Linked DNA regions of Homo sapiens. The protein of the gene in region 1 interacts with the protein of each later gene in a pairwise test. Each region holds a gene or a part of one and is shown on either strand. Other genes may lie near its edges.

Evidence for each region. Proteins that work in one complex are often made in the same cells at the same time.
Region 2: the proteins of GNE (region 1) and KRT85 interact in binary tests that used the Homo sapiens proteins (3 or more experiments, as listed by UniProt).

The regions. Positions count from the first base shown.
Region 1 is NC_000009.12:36,239,247-36,248,528, reverse strand, and holds part of GNE (bifunctional UDP-N-acetylglucosamine 2-epimerase/N-acetylmannosamine kinase), read left to right. Parts: intron 1-2,046; coding exon 2,047-2,498; intron 2,499-9,282. UniProt on the Homo sapiens protein: Bifunctional enzyme that possesses both UDP-N-acetylglucosamine 2-epimerase and N-acetylmannosamine kinase activities, and serves as the initiator of the biosynthetic pathway leading to the production of N-acetylneuraminic acid (NeuAc), a critical precursor in the synthesis of sialic acids.
Region 2 is NC_000012.12:52,358,290-52,364,481, reverse strand, and holds the end of KRT85 (keratin, type II cuticular Hb5), read left to right. Parts: exon of another isoform or gene 1-61; coding exon of another isoform or gene 62-115; coding exon 116-176; intron 177-318; coding exon 319-414; intron 415-1,071; coding exon 1,072-1,236; intron 1,237-1,502; coding exon 1,503-1,628; intron 1,629-2,010; coding exon 2,011-2,231; intron 2,232-2,983; coding exon 2,984-3,015; intron 3,016-3,435; coding exon 3,436-3,629; 3' UTR 3,630-4,476; downstream 4,477-6,192.

The sequences.
Region 1 (9,282 bases):
AACATGGTGAAACCCTATCTCTACGAAAAATACAAAAAAAAAAAAAATTAGCCAGTTGTGGTGGCGCATGCCCGTAGTCCTAGCTACTCGGGAGGCTGAGGCAGGAGAATCACTTGAACCCGGGAGGCGGAGGTTGCAATGAGCTGAGATCACACCACTGCACTCCAGCCTGGGCAACAAGAGTGAGACTCCGTCTCAAAAAAAAAAAAAGCAAAGGTTGAATAATCTGAGAGAACAAGGCGTATTACATACATCTTGATGTATGTAATAAAAAGTCATTTAGTGCACCCTTGTGGCATGAATATATTAATGCAGTCTCCAAAGAGGATCACAAATACAATACTGTATCTGAAAGAACCTTGCGTTAAAATAAAATTGTCCTTTTCAGACTATTCTTTAAAAACAAGGTGGGAATTCGCTACTAGGAAATACTTAAAGAGTAGAGAAGAAACTTAATGGATAGCTCAGGGATCCACAGATTTTTTTTTTTTTTTTTTTTTTTGAGACGGAGTTTTGCTCTTGTTGCCCAGGCTGGAGTGCAGTGGCGTGATCTCGGCTCACTGCAACTTCCACCTCCCGGGTTCAAGTGATTCTCCTGCCTTAGCCTTCCGAGTAGCTGGGATTACAGGCATGCGCCACCATGCCCGGCTAATTTTGTATTTTTAGTAGAGACGGGGTTTCTCCATGTTGGTCAGGCTGGTCTCAAACTCCCAACCTCAGGTGATCCACCTGCCTCCGCCTCCCAAAGTGCTGGGATTACAGGTGTGAGCCACTGCGTCCGTCCAGATTTTTTTTTAATATAAAATGAATTCTGGCTATTTAGGAGCATCCTCTCAGTAGAACAGAAATTTTAGCTAGAGCCTGAGATGAAAGTTTGAGTGGGTTCTTTTACTGCTCTGAGAAAGCTTTGACAGGAAGACTAGTGGAAGAGAGGCTCTCAGGGAAATGGTAGTAGGTTTTTTATCTGCCTACCACAGTTACCAAGGGTGGAAGAATAGTGTTTATCTGATGAGACCGTTAAATAGGAAATTTGACTAGTACTTAATGAAAATGCATGTTTAAGGTACATTCTAACACAAGAAATTGGTTGCTTCTTGGGAGAAGAATTGGATGACTGGGAGACAAAAGTGAGAGACTTTTCACCATGAAATGTTTTCTTAAAGAAAAAAGGTTTGGCCAGGCACGGTGGCTCACACCTGTAATCCCAGCACTTTGGGAGGACGAGGCGGGCGGATCACGAGGTCAAGAGATTGAGACCATCCTGGCCAACATGGTGAAACCCTGTCTCTACTAAAAATACAAAAATTAGCTGGGCGTGATGGCACACGCCTGTAGTCCCAGCTACTCGGGAGGCTGAGGCAGGAGAATCGCTTGAACCTGGGAGGTGGAGGTTGCAGTGAGTCAAGATCGCACCACTGCACCCCAGCCTGGGCGACAGAGCGAGACTCTGTCTCAAAAAAATAAAAAAAAGGGTAAAAAACATTTTCCCCTAAGTGTATATAAAAAGTGCTGACCACTGTTAAAAGTTTAGTCTCTTTCTTCCTAATAAAAAAATTCTCTGGCCGGGTGCAGTCGCTCACGCGTGTAATCCCAGCACTTTGGTAGGTCAAGGTGGGTGGATCACCTGAGGTCAGGAGTTCAAGACCAGCCTGGCCAACATGGCAAAACCCCATCTGTACTAAAAATAGAAAAATTAGCTGGGTGTGGTGGTACATGCCTGTAATCCCAGCTACGCAGGAGGCTGAGGCAGGAGAATCGCTTGAACCCGGGAGGCAGAAGTTGCAGTGAGCCTAGATCGCGCTACTGCACTCCAGCCTGGGCAACAGAGCAAGACTTCATCTCAAAAAAAAAAAAAAAAAAAAAAAAAAGAATCTTAATCAGGCTGTTTACACTTATGGTCTATGCTTTTTATGTTTGTAAGTTATACTTCAATTTATTTATTTTAATGTTTCTCACTTCAGAGTTGGTGTTAGATTGCTTTTCTTGCATGTTACGGCTCTGTGTTTAAGAACATGTTCTTATATCTTTATTTCTCCCCGGCTTTAGAAATACATATCGAATGATTGAACAAGATGACTTTGACATTAACACCAGGCTACACACAATTGTGAGGGGAGAAGATGAGGCAGCCATGGTGGAGTCAGTAGGCCTGGCCCTAGTGAAGCTGCCAGATGTCCTTAATCGCCTGAAGCCTGATATCATGATTGTTCATGGAGACAGGTTTGATGCCCTGGCTCTGGCCACATCTGCTGCCTTGATGAACATCCGAATCCTTCACATTGAAGGTGGGGAAGTCAGTGGGACCATTGATGACTCTATCAGACATGCCATAACAAAACTGGCTCATTATCATGTGTGCTGCACCCGCAGTGCAGAGCAGCACCTGATATCCATGTGTGAGGACCATGATCGCATCCTTTTGGCAGGCTGCCCTTCCTATGACAAACTTCTCTCAGCCAAGAACAAAGACTACATGAGCATCATTCGCATGTGGCTAGGTACGTATCTCAGACTTTAGTCAGTCTAATGGCTGTTTTTGTCAGAAAATGTTCCGTCTATTTCAATCCTTTTGGAAACTATTATGGATAGAATACTCTGTTAGCAATGAGAAGGCCAAGGTTTTAGTTCATAGACCTTGCCCTGTGGTATGACTTTACCTCTCTGAGGTTTACCTTTTCTGTAAAATAGGCTTAGTGGATTGAGTTTTAAAAATCTCTGCTATATTTATAGAATGGAATGCTTTTAATCCATTAAATATATTAGTTATAAGAACGATCCTAATATGTCAAAAGGGGGAGCTATAAAATTATAAGTGTAATATGCCATTTCATTTTATTTTATTTATTTTATTTTTTGAGATGGAGTCTTGCTCTGTTGCCTAGGCTGGAGTGCAGTGGTGTGATCTTGGCTCACTGCATCCTCTGCCTCCCAGGTTCAAGTGATGCTCCTGCCTCAGCCTCCCAAGTATGTGGGATTGCAAGCGTGGACCACCATGACCGGCTAATTTTTCTATTTTTAATTTCACCACGTTGGCCAGGCTGGTCTCGAACTCCTGACCTCAAGTGATCCGCCCACCTTGGGCTCCCAAAGTGCTGGGATTACAGGTGTGAGCCACTGCACCCAGCTGTAATCTGCCATTTTACTAAAAACTGTAATAATGGAATGGTTAGGAAGTATGTACACCAAGTCATTTATTATATTTATTTCTGGTGTGGGATTATGGGTGTTTTTATGTTTGATTTTCTGAATTTTTTTTTTGTTTTTTGAGACAGAGTCTTGCTCTGTCATCCAGGTTGGAGTGCAGTGGCACAATCTCGGCTCACTGCAACCTCCACCTCCCAGGTTCAAGCGATTCTCCTGCCTCAACCTCCCGAGTGGCTGGGATTACTATGCCTGGCTAATTTCATATTTTTAGTAAAGACAGGGTTTTTCCATGTTGGCCAGGCTGGTCTCGAACTCCTGACCTCAGGTGATCCGCCCACCTCAGCCTCCCAAAGTGCTGGGATTACAAGCGTGAGCCACCGTGCCTGGCCTGATTTTCTGAAATTTTTTACTACATTGGCAAAATGGTCATTTTTTTTTTTTTTTTGAGATGGAGTCTTACTCTGTTGCCTAGCCTGTAGTGCAGTGGCTCAGTCTCGGCTCACTGCAACCTCCACTTCCCGGGTTCAAGCGATTCTCCTGCCTCAGCCTCCTGAGTAGCTGGGGTTACAGGCGCACACCACCACACCTGGCTAATTTTTTTTTGTATTTTTAGTAGAGACGGGGTTTCACTATGTTGGTCAGGCTGGTCTCAAACTCCTGACCTCATAATCCGCCCACCTCGGCCTCCCAAAGTGCTGAGATTACAGGCATGAGCCACCGCGCCTGGCTCATTTTTATTTTTAATGCTTTTCTTATAGAATTGTTGGAATACTCAGATTATGAATGTTGGAAGCAGTAAGCCATAAGTACTTATTAATATAAGGGATTATGATGATTATTAAAAAGCAAAAGTCATAGTTGTAGCCTTAGAGTATATCTTTGTAAATAAGCCCTATGTTCCAAAATTTTTATTGTTCAGTGCTCTAGCTTCCTAGAAATTATCTTTTGCTAATCAGAGGTAAAAAAATCCAAGTTTACAAACAGAATGTCAGTTGGTTAATTTATAGTAAGAGTACTACCTAGGGGACAAATTAGGACTAATAATCTATTTAGGACCTTTCATTTCTAAGAGGCAGATCTATTGAATTATAAAATTAATGAACAGAAAATTGATTTGGTTGGGTCAGGTATGGTGGCTCACCCTGTAATCCCAGCACTTTGGGAGGCTGAAGTGGGAGTATTGCTTGAGCCTAGGAGTTACAAGGCCAGCCTGGGCAACATAGCAAGACGCTGTCTCTACAAAAAATAAGAAAATTAGCTGGGCGTGGTGCTGTGTGCATGTAGTCCTAGTTACCTGGGAGGCTGGGATGGGAGGGTCACTTGAGCCTGAGTAGTTGAGGCTACAGTGATCTGTGATTACACTGCTGCACTCTAGCCTGGGTGACAGAGTAAGACCCTGTCTCAAACAAAACAAAACAAAAAAAAACAAAAAACAATAACAAAAAAAAAACACAGAAAGAAAAAGAAAATTGAATAAGCAAAGAGATTTTGTATATTTTTAATCTAGATTACATTACATCAGGAAAGGAATTGGGCTTTCCTGCTATATAACGTACTCCATTCTACATATTTCTGTTGTTCAGTCTGGAGTGCAGTGGTGCAGTCTTGTCCTCCTGGGCTCAAGTGATCCTACCACCTCAGCCTCCTGAGTAGCTGGGACTACAGGCATGTACCACCATGCCCAGCTAATTTTTAAAATTTTTTTGTAGAGATGGGGTCTCACTATTTTGCCCAGGCTAGTCATGAATTCCTAGGCTCAAGCAATCCTCCTGCCTCGGCCTCCCAAACTGCTGGGTTTATAGGCATGAGCCACCGCACCTGGCCCATTCTAAATATTTCTTATGCTTGGACAGATTTGTAATTATCAAGGGATCGTCTAGATAATGCTGGTGGAACAACCTTCTGTCTCTTCAGTCTCTCCTTTTAGTATGCTTCCGATGAAACACTCTTGGATTCTGTTCTAATTATACCATTAGCTCTCTAGGTATTCTGGAAAACTTGTATCACTGAAAAACTTGTAATGAATAGAAAATAATAATGTGCCAGATGTGGTGGCACATGCCTGTAATCTCTGTACTTTGAGAGGCCAAAGTGGGCAGATCACTTGAGCCTAGGGGTTTGAGAACAGCCTGGGCAACGTGGTGAAACTCTGTCTTTACAAAAAATACAAAAATCAGCCGGGTGTGATGGTGTGTGCCTGTAGTCCCAGCTACTCCGGAGGCTGAAGTGGGAGGATTGCTTGAGTCTGGGAGTTCAAGACTGAAGTGAGCCATGATTGTGCCACTGCACTCCAGCCTCGGTGACAGAATAAGACCCTGTCTCAAAAAAACAAAACACTAGTTTTGGCCAGGTGCCAGTGGCTCATGCCTGTGACCCTAGCACTTTGGGAGGCCCAGGCAGGTGGATCACTTGAGGTCAGGAGTTGGAGACCAGCCTGGCCAACATGGTGAAACCCCATTTCTAGTAAAAATACAAAAATTAGCCAGGTGTGCTGGCACATGCCTGTACTCCCAGCTACTCAGGAGGCTGAGGCAGGAGAATTGCTTGAACCCAGGGAGGTTGCTGTGAGCCGAGATTGCACCACTGCACTCCACACTCCAGCCTGGGTGAAGAAGCGAGACTCCATCTCAAAAAAAAAAAAAAAAAAAAAAACAAGCATAAAACCCAGGCCAGATGCGGTGGCTCACACCTGTAATCCCAGCACTTTGGGAGGCCACGGCGGGCAGATCATGAGGTCAAGAGATTGAGACCATCCTGGCCAACATGGTGAAACCCCATCTCTACTAAAAATACAAAAATTAGCTGAGCATGGTGGCGCACACCTGTAGTCCCAGGTACTTGGGAGGCTGAGGCAGAAGAATTGCATGAAACCCAGGAGGCGGAGGCTGCAGTGAGCCGAGATCGCGCCACTGCACTCCAATCTGGCAACAGAGCGAGACTCCGTCTCAAAACAAAAAACAGCAAATAACCATTAGAAAGCAGAATGTAGCAAAATTGAATTGTACTTGTAGGGCTTAAAGTCCTATTTGGGACAATTTAAGCAGTTCTTTATGGAAAGAAGGACAACAGAACAGCTAAAATTGCTTTTTTTTTTTTTGGTCTTTAAACCAGTGAAAAAGAAAACTCAAGACAATGAGGCAGAGCCATCCACCACTGGGCAGTAATACATTTTATATAAAACCTGTTCCTGCTTCTTGATATGCAACTTCTTTTTTTTTTTCTTTTTTTTGAGACAGAGTCTTGCTCTGTTGCCAAGGCTGGAGTTCTGTCACCTAGGCTGGAGTGCATTAGCGCAGTCTCGACTCACTGCAACCTCTGCCTCCCAGGTTTAAGCAATACTCCTGCCTCAGCCTCCTGAGTAGCTGGGACTACAGGCGCACACCACCACACCTGGCTAATTTTTGTATTTTTAGTAGAGATGGGGCTTCATCATGTTCGCCAAGTTCGTCTCGAACTCCTGACCTCAGGTGATCCGCCCTCCTCAGCCCTCCAAACTGCTGGGATTATAGGCATGAGCTACCGCACCTGGCCTTAATATGGAACTTCTCATGCTATCACTCTGCTTACAGGAAGATAGGGTTGGGTAGGCCATATATAACATTGCAGCTTTGTAACCAGAGTGTTAATATATAACAATCTTAATTTTAAAATTAGCAATGTTAAAAAGGCATGTTAAATTCCTAATAATGAAAGGCATATCACAGTAAATATAGGACTTTACAACAGAAAACAAAATGCCTTTATGGAAAGGATTTATGAAAGGGCTGAGGCTGCTGAATTATGGATAGATACAAAGACTGGTAATAATATCAGAAGTGCCAGGTGGAGAAGCAGGTGCAAACTTTGTATGAAATGTATTCTTGCCAGGGATGAGTTGCTCTGGCTCATTGTCTTGCGTTTTACTTTTCCCTGGTCTAAAAAGACTTCTAGTTTTTGCTACTTTGCCATCCTTCTTTCATAAAGAAACTGTTGCTGGGCACAGTGGCTCGCGCCTGTAATCCCAGCACTTTGGGAGGCCGAGGCGGGCAGATCACAAGGTCAGGAGATAGAGACCATCCTGGCCAACATGGTGAAACCCCATCTCTACTAAAAAATACAAAGATTAGCTAGGCGTAGTGGCATAGGCCTGTAGTCCCAGCTACTCAGGAGGCTGAGGCAGGAGAATTGCTTGAACCCACAAGGTGGAGGTTGTAGTGAGCCAAGATCGTGCCACTGCACTCCAACCTGGGCGACAGAGTGAGACTCTGTCTTAAAAAAAAAAAAAAGTAAATGAAACAAAAAGCTGGTTCTTTGAAAAGATAAATAAAACTGTTAGACCATTGGCAAGATTAACCAAGAAAAGAAGGGAGAAAATCCAAATAACCTCACTAAGAAATGAAACAGGAGATATTACAACTGACACTACTGAAATACAAAAGATCATTCAAGGCTACTATGAACACCTTGACACACATAAACTAGAAAACCTAGAAGAGATGGACAAATTCCTGGAAAAATACAACCCTACTAGCTTAAATCAGGAAGAATTACATACCCTGAACAGGTCAATAACAAGCAGCAAGATGGAAATGGTAATTTAAAAATTACCAACAAAAAAAATTCCATGACCAGATGGATTCACAGCAGAATTCTACCAGACATTCAAAGAAGAATTGGTACCAATCCTTTTGACACTATTCTACAAGATAGAGGAAGAAGGAACCCTCCCTAATTTATTCTGTGAAGCCCCCATGACCCTAATACCAAAACCAGGAAAGGACATAACAAAAAAAACAACAGGCCAATATCCTTGATGAACATAGATGCTAAAATCCTTAACAAAATACTAGCTAATCAAATCCAACAACATATCAAAAAGATAATCCTCCATGATCAAGTGGGTTTCATACCAGGGATGCAGGGATGGTTTAATGTATACAAGTCAGTAAATGTGATGGACCACATAAACAGAATTAAAAATCACATGATCATTTCAGTAGATGCAGAAAAAGCATTAAACAAAATCCAGCATCCCTTTATGATTAAAACTCTCAGCAAAATCAGCATACAAGGGACATACCTTAATGTAATAAAAGCCATCTATGACAAACCCACAGCTAATGTAATACTGAATGGGGAAAAGTTGAAAGCATTCCCTCTGAGAATTGGAACAAGACAAGGATGCCCACTCTCACCACTCCTCTTCAACATGGTACTGGAAGTCTTAGCCAGAGCAATCAGACAAGAGAAGAAAAGGGCATCCAAATCAGTAAAGAGGAAGTCAAACCGTCACTCTTTGCTGACAATATGATTATTTACCTTGAAAATCCTAAGGACACCTCCAGAAAGCTCCTAGAACTTATAAAAGAATTCAGCAAAGTTTCTGGATACAAGATTAATGTACACAAATCAGTAGCTCTTCTATACACCAACAGCGACCAAGCGGAGAATCAAACCAAGAACTCAACCCCTATTACAACAGCTGCAAAATTAAATTAAAATAAAATAAAATAAGTAAAATAAAATAATAAAATGAAATATAAAATAAAATAAAATACTTAGGAATATACCTAACCAAGGAGTCAAAAGACCTCTACAAGGGATATTACAAAACACTGCTGAAAGAAATCATAGGCTGGGTGCAGTGGCTCACACCTGTAATCCCAGCAATTTGGGAGGCCAAGGCGGGCAGATCATTTGAGTTCAGGAGTTTGAGACTAGCCTGGCCAACATGGTGAAACCCTGACTCTACTAAAAATACAAAAATTAGCTGGGCATGGTGATGTGCACCTGTAGTCCCAGATACTTGGGAGGCCGAGGCAGGAGAATCGCTTGAACCTGGGAGGCGGAAGTTGCAGTGAGCCGAGATCGCACCATTGCACTGCAGCCTGAGCAACAAGAGTGAGACTACATCAAAAAGAAAAAAAAAAGAGAGAAAAAGAAAGAAAGATAGAAAGAAAGAAATCATAGACAACATGAACAAATGGAAACACATCCCATGCTCATGGATGGGTAGAGCTGATACTGCGAAACACATCCCATACTCATGGATGGGTAGAGTTGATATTGCGAGAATGACCATACTGCCAAAAGCAATCTACAGATTCAATGCAATCCCCATCAAAATACCACCATTATTCTTCACAGAATTAAAAAAAT
Region 2 (6,192 bases), on another chromosome or scaffold:
ACAACATCTGGAGGGGATTAATCCCTTTTCAATCCCCGGAAGAACTTGCCCAGGAGTTGGGATGGTATTCAAGGTCCAGTTTCTCAGCTCCAGACCTTCTCTCTCCCACACCCAGGTATGAAGAGGAGGTGGCCCTGAGAGCCACAGCAGAGAATGAGTTTGTCGTTCTAAAGAAGGTGAGGGGCTGGTCATGGGGCAAGGAGGAGGGGGCCCATCAGTGCAAACTCCAGCGAGGGGCAGGGTCACCATGCTGACCAAAGGCACCTTTCTTTGGTCTCCTCTCACATGCATGTCCCCTCCTCTTTGTCCCACGGCCAGGACGTGGACTGTGCCTACCTGCGGAAATCAGACCTGGAGGCCAATGTGGAGGCCCTGGTGGAGGAGTCTAGCTTCCTGAGGCGCCTCTATGAAGAGGTAAGGGGGCAACTGCCACCCAGCCAGGGCAGGTGGAGGGGTGTTTTGGAGACAGGGGAGCAGTGAGGCAAGGGTGCATGTGTGTGCCTATGTTTGCCAATGTGCAATGTAAGTGTGAAAAGAGCTTGCACATACGTGCTGGGGCCCACAATACAGAGGCCATGTCCACGTTCATGTGTGAGAGGAGCATGGGGTGTACATGTTCTTGGGCTGCTCTGTGTCTGTGACCTCTCTGCATGTTGGTGTGCTGCCTGTGTGAGTGCCAGTCTACAGATGGGCAAGAGAGTGTGCATGTGTGGTGGGGGTCAGGATGGCTTCGCACATAGGGCATGGTCCTCATTAATGGACTGACTAATCACTCATCCTAGCCTCCAAACCCCAGCTCCCCTGCTGGGTGACTTTGGACCAGATCTTTTTCACCCTCTGGGCCTCAGTTTTCCCACTTTTAAGGCAGACACTGTTCCCAGATGGCCTCTACAGCCCCTTTCAGCTTTGTTGTTTTTAAGGAGCCTGTGCATGAGTGAAGGTGGTAGGAGCAGGAGTCATGTAACCTTCATGACCAGTGCCCGGTCTGGGAAGTGGACATTGTCCCCTGGGGTGGATCACGTGGCCCAGATCAGGCACTAGAAGCAAATGCACTGGCTGTTGGCCCCACAGGAGATCCGCGTTCTCCAAGCCCACATCTCAGACACCTCGGTCATAGTCAAGATGGACAACAGCCGAGACCTGAACATGGACTGCATCATCGCTGAGATCAAGGCTCAGTATGACGATGTTGCCAGCCGCAGCCGGGCCGAGGCTGAGTCCTGGTACCGTAGCAAGGTGAGTGGCACAGGACACCTGCCTGCTAAGCATGGCAGTGGGAGGGAAGTTAGGCATCTATTAGAAAAGATTTCTCTTGCCTGGGGATTCTGACCCATGAGGACAGTATGAGAAAAGCCAGTAGTTCTCAGGTTGAAGTGGCAGGGCAGGACTGCCATGTGTGGTTGCACAGGCTGAGCACCGTACAACCTGTATAGTCATCTGTGGTGTCCTGAATGGATGGGGGGCCCCACCCTGAGCCTCATGAGCATCTCTACTTCCTCCAGTGTGAGGAGATGAAGGCCACGGTGATCAGGCATGGGGAGACCCTGCGCCGCACCAAGGAGGAGATCAACGAGCTGAACCGCATGATCCAGAGGCTGACGGCCGAGATTGAGAATGCCAAGTGCCAGGTGGGGTCTGTGGAGGATTCAAATACGCAGCACAGGCAGGCTGCAGCACCTGGCCCTAATCAGGCTTCACAGTGTGCCCATGAGGAAGCAGGGACCCAGAGGGAAGGGAGGGGCTCTATCATATTTCACAGCAATCAGACCATGTCACTGACTTCCAAAGGAGGATCCAGCCCCTTCCTTGGCCACCCTGTGACCGCCATCAAGGAGAGATGATGAAAAGCCCACCCATCTCCTCCCTCATATTCACAGCCCCATTAACTACCTGGCCACGGGCCAACCTTCTCTCCAGGACCCTCCTCTCCCTGCCCTGGCTCCATCAGCTTGGGTGAGCCAAGCTGTGGCTTCTCTTTCTCATCCTGGCCCTTGTATCTCCACCTGATAGCGTGCCAAGCTGGAGGCTGCTGTGGCTGAGGCAGAGCAGCAGGGTGAGGCGGCCCTCAGCGATGCCCGCTGCAAGCTGGCTGAGCTGGAGGGCGCCCTGCAGAAGGCCAAGCAGGACATGGCCTGCCTGCTCAAGGAGTACCAGGAGGTGATGAACTCCAAGCTGGGCCTGGACATCGAGATCGCCACCTACAGGCGCCTGCTGGAGGGCGAGGAACACAGGTGGGGCTAAGAGGACTTTGTGGGGTTTCAGAGGTGGAGGCTGTGGTCCTCCAGGAGTGAATTTCCTTGAGCTGAGTGTGAGCTACAACTCTGGCCATGGCTAATACAATAGCTTCAATAATAATAATAATAATAACTGAATGCTTCTGTGCTAGACCTGTGCTAAGTGTTTATTTTATAATCCTCACAATCCAATAAGATAGATATGGTTTTTCCCATCTTTTTATCTTTAGATAAAGAAGCAGGCTCAGAATTCAGTGCCTTTATCATGGCTACGCAGTTAATAAGCAGAAGAGCTGGGACCTGCACCCAAGTCTCATGCCTCCCAAATCCGTCCTTGTTGAATAGCTTCCTACTGAAGCTGCTGCCACACAGGCCTGTGTGTTATGATGATGATGCACTTCTATATGCATTTAGCTCTTCATCAACCACAAAGCCCCTTCACACCCTGGTGTATCTGATTCAACTCTCCTTCCTGTGAGCTTGATTGGCACCATCCAGGCTGGCCACCATCACTCAAACTAGGGGCACTGTTCATAATCTTACCCACTGCTGCTGAAAATCAGAAAGCCTTGTCTTCATGGTTAAAACCATCAAAGAAAGAAAGCATTTAATGCAGATTTGAGGGAGCCCTTCTTGCCTTTCAGGGGTAGACTCTGTACACAGGATGACCCTCTCTGTCCCCAAGCAACCATCAGTCTCAAGGAATCCAACTCAGTGTCTGGAACTAACAGAGTTTTCTTTCTCCATAGGCTGTGTGAAGGTGTGGGCTCTGTGAATGTCTGTGAGTATCTGCCTGAAATTCTCCTGGAAAAATGGCTTTTTTGATAGAAAAGCTGAACTCATTGGCCTAACCCATGGAGCCTCGAGTGTTCCCCCAACTGTTTCACCCTCCCCTGGCTCCTCAGTGGGGGCCATGACAGGTGTTAGAGAAAGCTGAGCTGAGTGCTCTTCGCAAGTGTTGACAGTGAGCTATAGGCCATGGACCTGTGGCCTGGCAGCTTTGCTCCCCGGGGTCCAGGGGTCCTCACTTCCTTCCTGCCCCAGTTCCCTAGATGGGCTGTGCATCTCAGGGACAGGGCCTGCATTGTTGACCACCAATTCCTTGGAGAGGGAGGCAGCTCCTGCAGTGCCCTGGGGCCTGTTGTAGGGTGGGTGAGATTGCAGGGAGCTGCTCACCCCTCCATGTCTCCTCTCTCCACAGGTGTCAGCAGCTCCCGTGGTGGAGTCTCCTGTGGGGGCCTCTCCTACAGCACCACCCCAGGGCGCCAGATCACTTCTGGCCCCTCAGCCATAGGCGGCAGCATCACGGTGGTGGCCCCTGACTCCTGTGCCCCCTGCCAGCCTCGTTCCTCCAGCTTCAGCTGCGGGAGTAGCCGGTCGGTCCGCTTTGCCTAGTAGAGTCATGGAGCCAGGGCTTCCTGCCAAGCACCTGCCTGCCTGCATCACTGCACTGAATGGCATGTGAATGGAAAATGTGTGCTTGCTTCCAGAATCTTCTGGATGTTCCTACAGAGGGAAAGACCTACAGAGGGAAAGACCCTCGGGCCGCTCCCCTGCGCCTTTTCATGCTAGGGAGATGCATCCTAGTTGTCCTCCTGGCAGCTGTTTTCAGAGGCATTCCCAGCCCTTCACTTAACTCCTACTTAGCTCCAAAATACCTGTATCCAATTTGTATTATTCCCCCAGCTCTCAGGGACAAGACCAGTCCCCCAGCGTGGTGGTCAGCACGGAAGCTCCACCTTCTGGGTGGAGGCGCCATCCTAACCATCCAGCCAGGCCACCCACAACCCGAGAATCAGGGAGAAAGTCCCTCCCCAGCAGCCCCCTCCTCCTGGCTGGGAAGAATGGTCCCCCAGCAAGCACTTGCCTGTTCATTCCTGTTCATGTTTTGCTTCTCTCTCAGACTGCCTTCCTGCTTCTGGGCTAACCTGTTCCAGCCAGGCTCCTCATGTGACCTCGCAGTTGAGAAGCCCATTATCGTGGGGCATCCTTTTGCCTACAGCCCCTGGTTAGGGCACTTTGGACAGGTCTTGCTATTCAGTGAACCTTTGTACATTTCAAAGAAGACTCCATGGCTGCTCCAGATGCCCCCTTGCTGGGTGCAGGTGGGGACTGTCCAATGCAGAGCTGGCGGGACAGAGAGTTAAGCCACTTCCTGGGTCTCCTTCTTGTGACTGTCTATGGGTGCATTGCCTTCTGGGTTGTCTCGATCTGTGTTTCAATAAATGCCGCTGCAATGCAAGAGCGTGTGGTCTTGTGAGCAACTTCTCCACTCCCTTCTTGCCTCATCTCCAGATGACCAATCCCAGTCCAGCCCCATGCAGTGTTTCCCCAGTCACCCCCCAGAAACTCTGCTGCTTCCTGTCCACTTCCACAGTCTGATTCCACTCAGTCGCCCTCAGTCCCCTCAGGCCTGGACTACAGCCCAGCTCCCCACTAATGACCTCTTTCTCCCTGACCCACCCTGCGTACTCCCAGCAGCCAAAACTCCATCCCAAACTCACTGCTCTCACCCTCTCCTGCCTGGCTCAAGTCACTTCCTGGCACATGTGTGTGCTTCTTATGCCAAATGCAGGCTTCCTCTGTCACCTCCTTCCCCAGCTACTCCTCAGCCCTGTCCAACCCCTCCATGCGGTGCTCATCCTCCCAGTCATGGACTCCACCCCAAGGAGACAAGTCTACCCTCTGAGGCAGCCCAGAGACACTCTCTCCTACATACCCCTTGTGGACACATAGGCCATCCCACATCCCTCCTCCCATTTGCCTTTGCTCAGGGCCCTCCTCTGCTCCCCAAAGCTACCACCCTCACCCCTACACCCCCCAGCCCTCCCCCGCCCCCATCATATAGTGTCTGGAACCCTGAGAATCTCTGGTTTTGTCTCTGCGGATCTGGGCCAGGGATGTCAACGGGTGTGTCTGGATCAAGCTGGAAATTCCATAAGGACAGGAAGTATCTCCTCCTGGCTCTGACCTCCCACTGAGTCCCAGGATGGGGCTCCAAGATATGCCAGGCCTGGGATGTGCTGGATGAATGCAGGCAGCTGGTGCAGCAGGAGGTAGAGACATCCAGTCCTCTTGCCCTCAGCTCCATCTCCCCATTAGCTGTCACCGTCATCAAGCAGGTGTCTGCCAGCCCCCTGCTGCCCCATCCTGCAGCCTCTTTCTCTGAGAGGAGAAGATAGGGCCTTGTGCATCCTCACTTTAGGCCCAAAGGGCTGTAGCCCCACTGGAGGCTGCTGGCTGCTTCTGAGTGCTTAGGCTGCTGCTCTGTTTGAGGTTTGCTGGCTGACACCTGGCGGGCCTCCTCCAGGTCTCTTGCCTGCTGCCTCCTTTTTCCCAGCTGTTTGGGCCCTGAGGGCATGGTGACAATCACAATAGGCCAACTTTCAATTTAGGGGACATCATTCACCCACAGGAAACGTTAAATCCCAGGGGCTGAAACATCAGGAAATGGAAATTTGAGCCCCAATTCTGCCAAGACTGCCAGGTCTCGGTGAGTCCTTGGGCAGGAAGTGGCTTTCATGCTTTGCATGTCAGTCTGGGGTCTATGAGATGAGTGGGTAGAGTCCTTACCAGGTCTGCTGCCTCCTATGGTTCTGAGATGCTACAGAGAGTCTATGCTTGGGGAAAACAGCTTCATGTTACCATGGATCTGGGCTGAGCAAAACAAAAATGCCAAATCTGATACCCAAAAAATAACGGCACCATGGATTGAAAAGTCAAACAGCCAGAACCTGGGAGATAGGAATGAATTTTTTAATACATTTCCGTGCTTTGTGTGCAAATACCATTCAACAGATTCAGCTGGCCAGAGGTGCCTTTTGCTTATGGGGAGGTAAGCCTCTGCCCCAGCCCTCCTTGCAGCCAACAGCAAAAACCCACCACAGCAAGCTCTTCTGGCTCAAAGGATGCTGGGGCTCCTGCAGCTCTCTCCTGATCAAAGAACTATTCCCCTCGG